Linked DNA regions of Homo sapiens: region 1 is linked to region 2. The links come from fine-mapping of genetic effects on gene expression. Tissue or cell type: aorta. Region 2 holds a variant in brackets; the other region holds the start of a gene. All regions are shown on one strand. Distances are between the middles of the regions.

Region 1 (2,937 bases), 70 kb after region 2:
TTCTCCAGCAACAAATTTGTGATATATCTACACAAACAATTTATTAAGCAGACATTAGTTTCTTAAATTGTTCAGGACAGTCTGTACTATCGGAATGAGCATTAACAGATGTTTTATCCAACATTTCAGTAAGTTCCATCCTGGAAATTCTTTTTTAATAAATACTTTAATTTCTTTGTTTAATCGTCTAATATACTTCTTTGGGAAAGCTGTCACGTTTCTTTATCCACAGATATCGTGGTATCACACCCCCCTCCAAAAGCTTGCAGAGGGGAACCAGTCAAGTTGAAGTATTCTCTTAAAGATTTCAAAATTAAGAATTGTTTTAAAAATCTACATTTCCTAAACTCTAGGTTTTTTTTTTTCTTTGTAGCCGACACCATGATCCAAATAAAGAGCAAACAGTTCAGGGTTAGCAGAAGAGAGATTTAAACACATCTGGCAACAATGAACACAAAAATTAGTTCAGTAGTTACAGATATATGTGTAAATAAAGGTGAAAGGCAAATAAAAGCAAATGTAATAAATACAAAGTGATTACTTTTCAAAACTCTGCATTATGATCAACCACAGAGTAAGTGAGACTCCGAGACCCATTAAGTAGTTATTCTTTCACCTCTTTCTTACAGCTGATAACATGGAAAGTTTAAAGACCCTTCCGGGGGGAGAAATGTTTTCCAGTTGTCAAGATTCAAGCTTAGCTAATATTAGAGCTAATTTTAAAAGACATTGTTCTGTGATTAAGGTATTTGTTCAGAAATATGTCTTTTAATCCATTTAGATTTTTAATACTTGCTAAATTTATTTTCTAGAATACCATGGTAAACAATATTATCTAGTAGTATTAGATTTTGTATTCATGTTGGGGTAGTAGGCTGTATTTTCTCTAGCATGTGAAATAAGTGAGACTATGTTTCAACATTATTTCAGTGCTATCTACTAAATTCTATAATAGAAACATTGCCAAACTATATGAGAATACTACTTAGAATAAATATATTTATTTTGAATGTGCACTTACCCAGTCCAGCTCTTAAGGAAATTCTTTGTGAAATATTCTCAGGATGGAACTTTACTTTCTGAGATTCCGCAGAAGAGATTTACCCACAAGCAAGGTGGGAAAGAGTGAAAGCTTTGCAATGTGATCCTGCAATTAGGATGAGATTCAGTTAGCAGAGCTTGATGGTCCTAAAGCAGGAGGTGACACTCTCTGCTGGAGAGAGAGAGGTTGTTCTGAGTAGATTGTAAGTGTTGTCAGATTGTAAGTGATCAGCAGCAGAAGGGAAACATCAGAGCTTCCTGTTACATCACTCTGACCCCGCCTGCAGTTAGTGTTAGGTTACTTTCTTTCTCAAATAGCATACCCCAGGAAAGCAGCACTCCTTTCTTATTGTGAGACAAGAGCAAGAAGCAGCCTGAACAGAGAGAGATCATAGGCTGTGTGAATACATTGTTACCAGTAAAAAGCTGGCTGGCTTTCACCTTGACTGAGTTCTGTTAGAACTTGCCAAACAAGCTACTTGTGATTTGAAGGAAATCTGAATATAGTATTCTGCTCAAAGAATCAAAGGAGTTAGGCGTGTGTGTGTGTGTGTGTGTGTGTGTGTGTGTGTGTGTGTTGAATTATAGCTTACAAAGTATCCAGGAAAAAAAATCTAACAAATCTGTGTTCATAGCACAACACAGAAAAAAAAATTAACTGTATTCATCATAACTGGTTTTGTGATTTGGCTCTTCTTAATTTGGAGCTCTGCTAATTGGGTGCTGTTCCTCCATCAGTTCCTAAGTGCAGTTCCTAATCAGTTAATTAGATCAAGAAACTTTATCCTGCAGTTTTTAAATCTTTTATTTTTTCCTTTACCTTCTTCATAAGAACATGAGTGTATGTGTTATAAATTCAGGTTGTGTATGTGTGTGTATAGAGTGTTTCTTTTATAATATATAAGTATATATATTTGACAAAATAGCCTTTTGAATAATTCATAATTTTAAAATTATTGCACACATTTAAAAATATTTGGTATAATTATGTTATTTATAATATAAAATAATTTATACCACAATATTTGTAAGTCAATATAATCTTAAAGAAAATATAGATGTTGTAAACATAATATTATAAAATAATATAAATACAAAGGATACTTTATTTCTTAGACAAAATTTCATCTCAAAGCATAGTTTTTCCTGAATATGTTTAATACATCATTGGATATGATCAGGGGAAAATGTAAATTTAAAATGCTTTTATCATTTTTATAATTTGGTAAATGTTCGATATGAAGCAATAATTATAATCCCTATAACCTAAACAGCACTAAAAGTCACTTAATTTATCAGGGCATAAATTTTCTCATCTATAAACTAGAAGAGATAGATTTTATGTCTAAGGCTTTGAATCGACAAATTTCATAACATTTTGAAATAGATAAGATACGGTGAGGATCATTCAACTCTTAGTAAATTGTTAGTGCAATTCCAGGATAAAATGAGGTGCCATACACCTTGTAGGCAGACAAAGGAGGTAAAGGCAAAATAAATTCAGGAATATCATGTTTTTAAAGCAGGGTGCTCATGTTGACATTTTTATTGTCTGAATTAGTGGAAGAAAATGTTTATACAATCTTTGATTTTAAGACCAGTGAGATCAATATTGATTACAAAATACAGACATATAAAAAATAGATATACTTTCATCTCTATAATTATGGTTAATAGAAAAGACTTGTAAGAAACTGAGTTACACTGGTGAACCGGTTCTGATACTGTCTGGTGTGATCTTGACAAAGCTTTTTAGGCTTCATGTTCCCATCTTGAAATTCAGAGAAAAACAAATACTAGATTTAATATGAAAGTAATAATGGGTCATGTCTTCTCATCTTCCATGCTAAGTGTAATATATGAATCCTATAAAGAGATTAATATATAGTTTTTGAA
Region 2 (2,937 bases):
TGGCTTGCAGCATTGTTTTCACTTGGCAGCCCTACTCTTATCTAATTAGTTCACAGCAAGCATTTTCCATTAAATCTTAGACTCTTTCACATGAAGGAACATAAATAATTTTGCATTTGACTTTAGGAAATTGGTGCAGGACTTTACTTATCTTTACTAAATTCTAACTTGTTTGGGACTGTATGACTTAGAATTCTAGAAACCATTGTCCTTCCCTGTAGCCACTGGTTTTGACAGGCAAATGTAATTATTATACTTTGCAACTTTATCTTCTTCAAAAATTTAATGTGCTCGGATATTTCAACTTATGACATGCAAAATAAAAAGAGACCATTTAATCTGAAGACTTTCAGCTGTATTAGTTTTTAATTTGCAGAGATAGTGGTCTTCCAAATGTTAATTAAAATTTTACCCTATGTCTACTATCGTTAATTGCAATTCTGGAAATATTACAGTAAGTAATTCGGGAAGATTTCACTGAGGAAGTGATGCTAAAATTTAAATCTAAAAGATAAATACATTTAATTAGACTAGGGAGGAGGCAAAGAGAACAGGCAGGGCAAGTTAATGATTTTGATTTTATATTAATTACAATGGAAAATCTAAAAATTTTAAAGCAAAGAATGGCAAAATCAGGTCAATATTTGATCTAAATATTTGAAACTACTATTCTGGCTGCCTTGGTTAGAATTAAATGAAGAGAGAAAGTGAATTTACTGAGGCTAGATAGAACAAGACTGCTGGTGATGGCAGTAGTGATCAGGAAATGGAATAGATTAGAAGGGTTTCAAAAGGTTAAGTTCACAGGTTATAAGGAAAGAGTGACAGAGAAGAAAAATGAGAGAAATGTATCACAGATTACTCTTAAATTTCTGGCCAATGTGATTGGATTTCTGGTAGTGTCATTTGTAAAGATGGGTCACTCTGGAAGAAAACCAGCTTGGGTTAGGAGGAGGTAGATAATATGAATTTGTTTTGAACATGTTCATTTTGAAATATTTTTGAGATGATGTGTTTCAAGAGCCATAAAAAGATATAGACCCTTTGACCAAGAAATCCCAAGACTCTGGGAATGTAGCCTGAGAAAATAGTACAAACT[A/G]TGGGAAAAGTTATAGTCAAAAATGTCCATTGCAGTGTTTTTTAATTGAAAAAATGAAAGCAATGTTAATGGTCGAAAATAGAGAATTGATAATAACAACTTTTGTACACCTACTAAATGAAAAATTATTTAGCTGCTCAAATGATTGTTTAAAAACTGTTCAGTAACATATAAAGTGCTAATGATAAAATGCTGTTATAAAAATAGTTAAAATATTTTAAATACTATAATTAAAACTGTAGAAACAATATGAAATAAAACTAGAAAAATGTTAGAAATTGCTTAATAGGGTATTAAAATTATAGGTATATATATCTTCTTTGTTTAAAATTAGTAGAAGAAGGAAGTTGGAGGAAGAAGGAGGGGTAGGAAGAGGAATAAGAGAAGAGGAGGAGGAGGAGGAAAAAGAAGAACAAGAAGAAGGAGAAGGAGAAGAAGAAACAAGAAAGAGAAGGAGGAGGAGGAGGAAAAAGAAGAACAAGAAGAAGGAGAAGGAGAAGAAGAAAGAAGAAAGAGAAGGAGCAGCAGTGGCGGTGGCAGCCACAGGAGCAAAAGGAGCAGAAGATGACTACAATGCGATGAAGATACAATGAAACATAGCTACTTACTCTTGTCACGCTGAATTCTATGATTATATATATGCTGATGATCAAAGTTATGAAAATCATGTGAAGGGATAAAATAATGCATGCATGACTTAGAATTTAACTTTCTATAAATTTAAAATTGGTTGTTGATTGCTTTGTTCAAAAAATTGGAGCTGACTCTTCCTCCTCAAAATGGAGTGAATTACAAGTAAAATTGAAAGTACAATTAAACCTTTTTAATGATGACCCGCCAAACGAGGAAAAACCCTAAACAAAGTGTATTTAGATTATATTTTTGATGATATATGTTAAATGCCTTTGCTATTATTTGCACAAAATTCCGGTTTCTAAAATGGACACTTATTCTGTTATTAAAATTGTCCAAAAGCTAAACACACAATTAAGAAGGCCTATACTATTTAACAGTTCCCAAAGCAAATACAGTTAGGTTTATATATTAGTTTGGACTCCCTTCTTATTATATGTCTTCACTTTTATATGCCTACTAATTTTGTAAAATTCAGGTTAAGATATTTCATCAGTCTCCTCTACATATTTTACAAAGCTAAGATCAACTTATTTCAACTTATTTTAAACATTATAAATCATCTATATTGGTATATTTTGTCAGACATGATGTAAATATGCACATGATGGGGCATTCACCCAAGACATCTAGTAATTTTCTTAAAATATTTTAAATTTACTTACTTGAAATAAAAGAATATGCCAAGCGAGATAAGCAGTGATGCAATAGACAATCCGTGTCCAATTATGGTCAGGTAAAACAAATTTAGTGCAGTCTGTAATTTGTATAAACAAAAAAATTTGGTTCATATCAATACTATAAGTATCTGTAATCCCACACATGCAGAAGTTCAAATTCAGTTGAATAAACTATATTTTTAGAAATATGTGATCTGATAGCCTTACAATGATGAGTTTACAAACCAATAAATACTTGAACGTGTCTGGAATGAAAAATATCTATCCAGTGAAATTATCAAAATTTATAAGTTGTATGCCTTTTTATTTTTTTAATAATTTTTTAAAAAATTAGAAGTCAAATATTAAATCTATGAGGCAAAACTTTTATTGATCTAGATTATATACTATATGAAACTAGTATTTTATATTTTGTGCACCTTCAAACAAATGCTACGTGATGATTTGTTTTGTTCAGATGTAAATGCCAGATAAAGGTTTATTTTCAAACTGAGTTTCTTTTTCCTTTGACAAATTTGAAGCTCA

Which allele goes with the higher level. Positions count from the first base shown, and alleles are read on the strand shown. Sizes are in standard deviations (SD) of each study's normalised expression.
With allele A in place of G in region 2, the expression in aorta of the gene that starts at base 1,235 in region 1 is lower (moderate effect, 0.66 SD a copy in GTEx).

The links.
Region 1: it holds the start of CALCRL, and the variant in region 2 is fine-mapped to the expression of CALCRL in aorta (GTEx, PIP above 0.99).

Annotation. Positions count from the first base shown.
Region 1 is chr2:187,447,018-187,449,954 of GRCh38, forward strand. It overlaps CALCRL (calcitonin receptor like receptor), which reads right to left and starts at 1,235. Exons shown (of 15, transcript NM_005795.6): 1 at 1,022-1,235. The region is part of intron 2 of CALCRL-AS1 (CALCRL and TFPI antisense RNA 1); the gene reads left to right.
Region 2 is chr2:187,376,543-187,379,479 of GRCh38, forward strand. It overlaps CALCRL (calcitonin receptor like receptor), which reads right to left. Exons shown (of 15, transcript NM_005795.6): 8 at 2,398-2,489. The region is part of intron 2 of CALCRL-AS1 (CALCRL and TFPI antisense RNA 1); the gene reads left to right. Among named protein-coding and RNA genes, the nearest start is that of CALCRL, 70 kb to the right of the region's middle. The variant A/G (reference allele first, on the strand shown) is at 1,100.